Regions from separate parts of the Homo sapiens genome. Here region 2 is linked to region 1. The links come from fine-mapping of genetic effects on gene expression. A gene starts in region 1. The other region holds a variant in brackets. All regions are shown on one strand. Distances are from middle to middle. Region 1 holds the start of DNMBP-AS1 (DNMBP antisense RNA 1). Region 2 overlaps ABCC2 (ATP binding cassette subfamily C member 2).

What was found. PIP is the estimated chance that this variant, and not a neighbour inherited with it, causes the effect.
Region 2: its variant is the best candidate, but not a certain one, in a credible set for the expression of DNMBP-AS1 in breast (GTEx, PIP 0.70).

What each region holds. Positions count from the first base shown.
Region 1 is chr10:99,925,466-99,929,858 of GRCh38, reverse strand. DNMBP-AS1 (DNMBP antisense RNA 1) reads right to left here and starts at 2,654. Exons shown (of 5, transcript NR_024130.3): 1 at 2,560-2,654; 2 at 1,619-1,699. All of the region lies in intron 4 of DNMBP (dynamin binding protein), which reads left to right.
Region 2 is chr10:99,848,326-99,852,718 of GRCh38, reverse strand. ABCC2 (ATP binding cassette subfamily C member 2) reads right to left here. Exons shown (of 32, transcript NM_000392.5): 31 at 1,923-2,117; 32 at 125-1,217. The coding sequence ends at 1,088. Among named protein-coding and RNA genes, the nearest start is that of ABCC2, 68 kb to the right of the region's middle. RefSeq lists a silencer at 2,333-2,627 and an enhancer at 2,173-2,853. The variant C/T (reference allele first, on the strand shown) is at 2,670.

The DNA.
Region 1 (4,393 bases):
AAGAACAAAGGCACATGGGGGCAGCAGGATCCTTCTGGATGGTCTGCAGACTCAGTGTACCAGGGGAGAACAAGGAGGACATCATTTGGGGATTCCTCAGAGCTCGTCATTAGAGAAGAACATCTGGCATTTAGAGGAAGAGAAAAAATTAAATGGCCCAGAGACTTGGAGAAGGAATAGTTGCCTCCGCCGCACAGCACCCAGCACCCTGAGGCGCTCAGAGTTCGTGCAAAACAGCAAGAAAACCCAAGGTATGAACTCAGCCAGCCTTCTTAAGATAAAGCATAAAGATAGATTTAAAGGGTAGTTATACCAGGTACTAGGAGCACTTGTGTTCTTAAGGAGCCCGGGCCCTGAACTTCTTATCAAGTGCACCTTGAGTGAGAACAACCTTAGAGATTTAATTACTTTGGAAGGCATTGTACAGAGCAAGAGTATATATACAGTGCTAAAAATATGCAACATTCGGATAGCGCTCTCATGGGAACTTTTATTTACGCTTCCTGGTTTTTTCAGATGTCTCTAATCTCAAGTATCTTTCCTTTCTTACTTTCATGTTTTTGTTCATCTTGTCGAGGCAGCAAGTTTATTATCAGGGCATCAAGCTAAAATTCATTTTCCTGGCATGTTTTTTTTTTTTTCTCTCAGTCTCTACACTTCTTTGGACATTAATGGAAAAGAAGACTTGACTTTATTTTTATTTATTTATTTTTTTGAAACAAGATCTCATTCTGTCCCCCTGGCTGGAGAACAGTGGCACGGTCATGGCTCACTGCAGCCTCAAACTCCTGGGCTCAAGAGATCCTCCCACTTTAGCCTCCTGAGTAGCTGGGACTATGGGTACATGCCACCATGCCCGGCTACTTTTTTATTTTTTTGTAGGGGCAGGGTTTCACCATGTTGCCCAGGCTGATCTTGAACTCCTGGGCTTGAGCGAACCACCCACCTCTGCTTCCCAAAGTACTGGGATTACAAGTGTAAGCCACCATTGCCAGGCCTTCATTTTAATTTTTTTTTTTTACCGCTCCTTTCAGAGCAGGGCTACCCCATAGGCAGTGTGCCCAGAGTAGCCCTGATTTGTTTTATAGATTGTTCACTCCTTGACATTCAGGAATCTTAAGTGAATGATGAGTACTGACACTCTTGTGGATTCCAGAAGATTATTTCTAGCTTTCAAATCACTTCATCTCACTGAGCCTTAACTACGTTGTCTGTGAAATGAGAATATTAGGAGTCTTTTATCATGTAGAGGTTCTTTCTTTCTTGCCATTATATCTTTTCTTCAGTTCTCATAAGTGAGCTTTATTTCTACTGTGTTATTTTTATAATTACTGAACTCTCTGTTAAACCTTTCGTGTGTGTGTATGCTGTATGTTGTCTTCATGCCAAACGGCCTTTCTGGTTCTGGCCAATTTTGGGGTCCAGGCTGTGACCAGAGGATAAAGGTTAGTCAGAGAATGTGAATGATCTGAAAAATCCATCTCATGCCCTCCCCTTAAGTAGAAAGTTTCTCGTCTAGGTCTCCTTCAGAATGGGCTGGCTGGTTAGATTTGTACTAGGGGCCACCACAGACTGAAAAGATAAGCCTGCTATGGTCCTGGGATGGCCGGTGGTTTACCTGGTGGTCTTCCAACATGGGCTTGACTTAACTTGAATTTCTGGGGCACCATTTTGGACCTAACAGGCTCTTAACCTGCACCTATAAAGACAAAAATGAAACCAAACCCAGCTTTAGTTGGGAGGCTGAGGTTTTTAGCAGCTAGTCATTTTTTCCTAGGTGCATTTTCTCTCTGAAATGATAGGGACTGGATAACTTCTAAATTCCTTCCAGCTAAAAAAGAAAAAAGTCTGATTCTGTGATTCTTTATATTGGTTTTTGTATTGTTCCTCTTCCCTTCCCCCCGCATCTGTTCCTTTGGTGAACTTTGTTTCCTATGTTTAGTTCCTTATTGTATTAAGCCTCCCAACTGTAATCAAAGTGTGTTTATTCTGTTTGACTTAACAGGAGTGAAACCCTTCTCTCTGCAGTGTTGTAATGTGCCCTCTGATCTCCCTGAAACCAGCTCGGTTCCACCCAATATCATTTCCATTTCTACAACTCTCTTTATCTTTGAGGACTTAACTTTTGAAAGTATATTCATATTTAGTTCACCCCTTTTTGTACCCCTAATATCCTTCTTGACCTATAACAAATTCTGTCTTTACTAGAAATCTTTCAGCATTCTAACGTTCTTTGTTAGCTCTCTCACGCCATTGCCCTTCCTGAATATTACAAGGGAACACTGTGTAATTACACAAAGGAACAAGCATCAGAGTTGGTCTGCCCTGAGTTCAAATCTCAGCTCCACCATTTACTAAATGGCCTTAACTTGACAAAAATTACTTAACCTCTTGGAGCTTCGGATTCTCAATTTGTAAAGTGAAGATAATACCTCTCTCATAATGAGATAGAAAAATAAAACAGTCACATATCCGGAACATAGTAGGTGCTCATAAATGGCCATTTCTTTGTGTTTTATCTGCCCACCTCCCTTCCCCTTTATAAGTTGCGCCACCCACCTGTCACTCCATGGTTTCGTCTCTGAGTTCCAGATTGATAGTCCCTGCTCCCTGTTGGACATCTACCCTAGACCGTAAACACTTCAAGTTTGATTGTCTAAGTGGAATGTCCTGTCCCTTCCTCTTCTCCCGTCTTCCCCTTGCCACCCCTCCTCCATCTGAGACAGAGCTCTGTTCAGTGGCTGCTCTCCAGCCTCTCCCCCAGGCAGGAAGCCAAGTTTTCCCCCAGGCTTTCCTTTCTCACCGGCCTGATCAGTCATTCTCCTGAGGCCTCCATCTGAGGTTTTTTTAGGGCAGGTCTGTTAGGGGTTTGCTCTTAGTCCTAGGGTGTGGACCTCTAGTTCTGAGAGGTGGGCCTTATTCCTAAGGTGTGGCCCTTCGGAGGTTTCAACAGAAAACTGGAAGTGTTTATTGAACCTCCTAACTTGGAGGGACTCAAATTTCAAACTGTGTCTTCCCAGAGCCAGACAGTTGGTGAAGATCTATCTGCTGGGCTCTTCTGGCCTCCAGCTTTCCACGGGGTTCCTTGGAGTCTCATCACCTGCATGCACAGTTGAAGGATTGAGAGGCATTTCTGCACAGATTTTGGGGCTCTCCTCTCTGTGGCTTACTGTTTTCCAGGATTTCCCCCTTAATAGCTAATGTCTTCAGAGCCCCCAGACTGGAACCTTTGGCTGCTCAGCCCAGTAAGATTGCCCCATGTGGGCTTTCTTCTTTTGCTTTATTTCCCGGCGTCCTAAAAGACTAGGGAGTGCCCTGAGGGGAGGACTGGAGACAGGTGCATCTTACCTAGTTTGCTTCCCTTGTTTTGAGTCATATCCCCTCCAAATTCTGCCTGCTTTTGATTGCTTTTCAGTGCCTGCATATAGTTATTTTTTAAAATATCTGTCAGAAGGCTGAGGTGGGAGGATCACTTGAGCCTGGCAGGTCGAGGCTATAGTGAGCTATGATGATGCCACTATACTGCAGCCTGGGTGACAGAGTGAGACCACATCTCTAGAAAAATAAAAGTAAATAAAAGTTAAAAAAATAAATCTTGTAAAGTGTTTTTGGTAGTTATAAGTAGGGAGATTAGTACAATGTGAGCTACTCTACCATTACTAGACCAAGTGTGGGCACTAGGGTTTTGCACTTGCTAATAACATACATGGTTATGATGAGAAGGGGACCTGGTGTTTCAAATTCCACGTTACCTGTTTTGCATGTAAATAATATTAGGATATCTAAATGAAGAGCTCTTACAGAGAAAACTATGAAACTAGAGAGGGCTCTAAACAAAACTAGAGAGGGCTAAAGGTTCAGGGTTGGAAGGCTACAAAATAGGAGCCTCTTATGTTATTACTGGAAGGAAGCTTATATAGCCACAATCCCATGTTTTTGTAAATAATGGGTAGCCACTCATGACTGGGTCTTGAAGTCTGTTTGGGGGTTGCAATCAGCAGTTCTGAAAAATAAAAGTAAATAGAAAAAACTTTCATACTACATTCTATGTAGTAAAAGTAAGCATGTAATACTTTGTGTATGTGTATGTGTATAGACATAAATGTATTATGTAAATGTGAGTTACAGCCTAAAGTGTGGGTCAGGCCAGGCACAGTGGCTCACGCCTGAAATACCAGCACTTTGGGAGGCCGAGGTGGGCAGATCACTTGAGGTCAGGAGTTTGAGACCAGCCTTGCCAACATGGTGAAACCCCCTGTGTACAAAAATACAAAAATTAGCTGGGCATGTTGGTGGGCGCCTGTAGTCCCAGCTACTCCGGAGGCTGAGGCGGGAGAATCGCTTGAACCCAGGAGGTGGAGGTTGCAGTGAGCTGAGATTGTGCCACTGCACT
Region 2 (4,393 bases), 77 kb after region 1:
ACTGTGGTTTGAAACCCCTTAGTGAAGAATTTCATTCAAAGAGGTTCTGGGTAATGCCCCAGGCAGCAGGCTAAAGCATTCCCAATTCCCTTAGGAAGAATTCACGGTCAACTTAGGCCTCAAAGAATGTCCACAGATAAAGTTTTAAGGAGAACGAGCTTATAATAAAAATTCACAAGACATACAAGGAAATAAAATACCATGAGTAAAAACCAACAGAAACAACAGATAAACAAAGAATCCAGACATTGGAATTATCAGACACAATATTTAAAAAACAAGTGGAAATGCAAATGCCCCAGAAACATGAAAATATATTCATCCCCAATAGATACTAGGGAAATGCAAATGAAATTCTCATTGATACATCAATTCATATTCATCAGATTGACAGCAATGTTTTCAGTTGGCATTACCAGTTTGGCATCAGCTAGTTTGTGCATGTAAACATGTTCATACCCTCCATTCCTAGGTTATACCCTAGAGAAACTCTTACATATGTGCCAGGAGATGTAGACCAGAATGTCCATAGTAGTACTGCTTATAATTTTTAAAAACCTGAGAATAATGCTAATGATCCCCAATATTAAAACTGATACATTGTGCTGTATTCATACAATGCCAGACTACAGAGCAGTGAAAAAAAATAATGCACCTATTTGCATCACCATGGATGAATCTCAGATATAATATTGAACAAAAGAATCAAGTCATAGAAGATGTATGCAGTATGAGTCAGTCCATTTACATAAGTAAAAAAGGGTATATGTTGTTTAAAGATACATACAAAGGTGATAAAACAGAAATGAAAGGCAAAGGAATAATTATCGTGAAATTCAGGACAGTGGTTGTCCCTGGGAGGGGTGGGTAGCAAGGAAGTACGATCGAGGTAGACAATCGAGGGGTTTCTCAAGTACCTGGTGACATTTATTTTCTTAACCTGGGTAGTAGGTTCATGGGTGTTCACTTATCCTTTTTTAAAACGTACATTTTATACACACTTTTGTATGTATTCTGTATTTTATAAAAAATAAAATTAAATAAGAAATTATTCTTATAGTCCTTTTCTAACCCATGGGGCCTTCTGCTAGAATTTTGTGCTGTTCACATTCTCAATGCCAGCTTCCTTAGCCATAAAGTAAAAGGGTCCAGGGATTTGTAGCAGTTCTTCAGGGCTGCCGCACTCTATAATCTTCCCGTTGTCTAGGACCATTACCCTGAAACAAGGAAGAAAGAAATAAAAGTCTTAGAAAGCAGCATCTCAAGTCTAGGCATTTATAAGAATAACCAGGACTAAGTTGTGGTATAGTCAGACAAGGCTACAAAGCAGTGAAAATCAATGAGCCACAGCTACACACATCAACATGGATGAATTCTGCAAATAATATTGAACAAAAGAATCAAGTAATAGAAGAATACAGGCAGTATGAGTCCATTTACATGAGTTTTTAAAAGAAGTGCACATTGTTTAAGGATAGATTGGTTTACAAAGGGTGCCTATCATCTCCAAACAGCTTTCTAAGATTACTGACTTTTGATTGTAATATGACACAGCTGGAAGGAATAGAAAGCTTCTGGCTGTTTTACAGAGCAGCAGCTGAGGCTCAGGACAGTTAGGAAGGTCTATGGTCAACATCTGCCTCTCACGGCTTGAGCTTCCACCTCCCCATACCCAGTTAATTGTTACAACACACAGTTTCCTATTTTGCCCTCAAGATATGAATAGTTCCCTTAACCTTGTTCGTTTTCATTTGCGTGATGTAAAATTTTGGCCAGATTACTTGACATCTCTAAGTCTCAGTTTCTTCATCAGTAATGTGGTGGTGGTTAAACCTTCTGCCATCAGGTGTTTCCCGGCTGACACTGTTACTGTTGAGCAAGGGTTAAGCCATCCGTGTCAAGCCCTGTCCCCCTACACTCACTTGTCACTGTCCATGATGGTGTGCAGCCTGTGGGCGATGGTGATCACTGTGCAGTGGGCGAACTCGTTTTGGATGGTCGTCTGAATGAGGTTGTCTGTCTCTAGATCCACCGCAGCAGTGGCCTCATCCAGGACCAGGATCTTGGATTTCCGAAGCAGAGCCCTGCCCAGGCACAGCAGCTGCCTCTGGCCTATGCTGCAGCCAATAGAAGCAACCATGTGTTAGCTCCTAAAGACCAAGGAAAGACGCAGGGCAGGGGGACCATTTTCATGTTCCAGATCAGACTTTCAAAACCCCCCCTCCAAAATTCCCCTGGAATGTTTGGGCCTCTTCAACTAGCTGTACCTTGCTGCTGTGAGCATCGTTTTTCAAACTTTCCCAATTGAAGACCCACCCCAAGTACTTAATTAAAAAGTCATATTTCTGGGCCCTTGCTTTGCTCAATCAGAGCGGGCAGGAGCCTAGGAAGGTGCCTTTTTACTAAGCACCCCAGGCCATTTTTATGCTTAAACAAGTTTGGATAACAATGGCCCAGGAACCATGCTTTGTATTTGGTTGCCGTGACATCAACATTTCCAAAACAACATGAGTGTCACCAAGTTTACGTTAGCAGCATTTGACCTGAAGCCATTAATATAGGGTGGAGCAACACTAGAATGCCCCAGTGGCATTTCTTTGTGGCCTTAGCAAATCAATTTATTATTTTAATGTGTAATTCTAGCCTCAAGGCTAATTATTTGTTCAAGG[C/T]CTTCTGCTTTGATTAGAGATGAAGCTGTCTAATGAACGTGATGTCTTGGTGTGAGATGCAATGTATGTGGAATTCAAATATGCTTCTAAAATGCAAATAGCTTTAATTTGCTAAAAGCCTGTAATGAAGGCTGGACCTCTTACCTAACATAAAGAAGCTTTGGGAAATGATGTGAAGGAAATATTCAGGAATTTGCTAATTGCTCTTTCCTGCTGTGGCCATTAGGGAACATATTAAACAGGGGGTGGCCAAAGTGCTGTAATTCTCTGTAAGAAAATTTCTGCAGGAGATGAGAAGTCACCCAAGATGAACTTCCAGTTTTCCCCTGTAATGTAAGATCAGAGACACTGAAAAACTATTTACTTAGCTTGTACCAAACTCCTGCCTGGCCCAAAGTGTAACGTAGACTTTGGACTTTAGAGTAACAGACTGTTGCTGAGGCGCCACTTTGTCTTTCAGCTGCTCTCTCCAAGCTGAACTTACCCATCATTCAACAGAGAAATGTAAGTTTTAGTCCCCCAGGCCAGGTTTGAAACTCAGGTCTGAAATCAAGGCATTGGTAATACCATTTAAGCATCTCTCAGCTTGGACAGGAGAAAGATGGCATGATTTTTGTTTTTACAAACCAGAAATGTCAAGGCCTCCCATTGTACCCTACCATAGCATCCCAAATGTACCCTCTGTAGCACAGACTGTACTGGCATTTACTGACAGAGGTCTGTCTTCATTATGCTGTAAATGCTAGGAAGTCAGGGTTGTGTCTCTGTTTGCCTCTGTATTTTCAGTACCTGGCACACAGTAGGTGTACATATATTTTCGAGACGGAGTTTCGCTCTTGTCTCCCAGGCTGGAGTGCAATGGCGCAATCTCAGCTCACCACAACCTCCGCCACCCGGGTTCAAGCGATTCTCCTGCCTCAGCCTCCTGAGGGATTACTGCTGGGATTACAGGCCTGTGCCACCATGCCCCACTAATTTTGTATGTTTAGTAGAGATGGGGTGTCTCCACGTTGGTCAGGCTGGTCTCGAGCTCCCGACCTCAGGTGATCCGGCTGCCTCGGCCTCCCAAAGTGCTGGGATTACAGGCATGAGCCACTGCGCCCGGCCGGTGTTATTACATTTTTGCTGACTGAATGTTTGAATGATCTTTTACACTGGCCTAAAGACCTACTTGAGTCCTGCTAGTTGCTAGATCTGTTGTGGAGGGAAAGTAAACTGACGATGTTCTCTACCAGGGCTTGTTCCCTGGGGCTACACACTAAAATCACCTGGGTCCCCGATTCAGTTGGTCTGGGCTACAGTTTAGGCGTTGGGAGCTTTAAAGCTTCCTGGGTGATTTTAGCTTGCAGCCTAGTTAATCACAACACTCTAGGCAGTGCTTCTCAAGTGTAATGTGCACACAAATCACCTGGGAATCTTGCTAAAGTGCGGATTCTGATGAGTAGGTCTACGCCCTGAGATTCTGCACATGTAACAAGCTCCCAGGTGAAGCCAGAGTGGCTGGCCCCTGAATCAGTTACTGAGCCCTCCCTTCCTTCCTGAGCTTCAACTTGCCAACGGCCTATTCCCTGCCTACCACCACTGAGGCCCCTGGGGCAGGAGCAAGACCTGTCCATGAGCAGTGGGCTTTGGCTGAGGGCAGAACTTCAGTGTGTGGAAGGAAAAACAAAAATGTTACAGGAAAAATGCCAGATCAACTTATTAATGGACAGGCAAACATACAC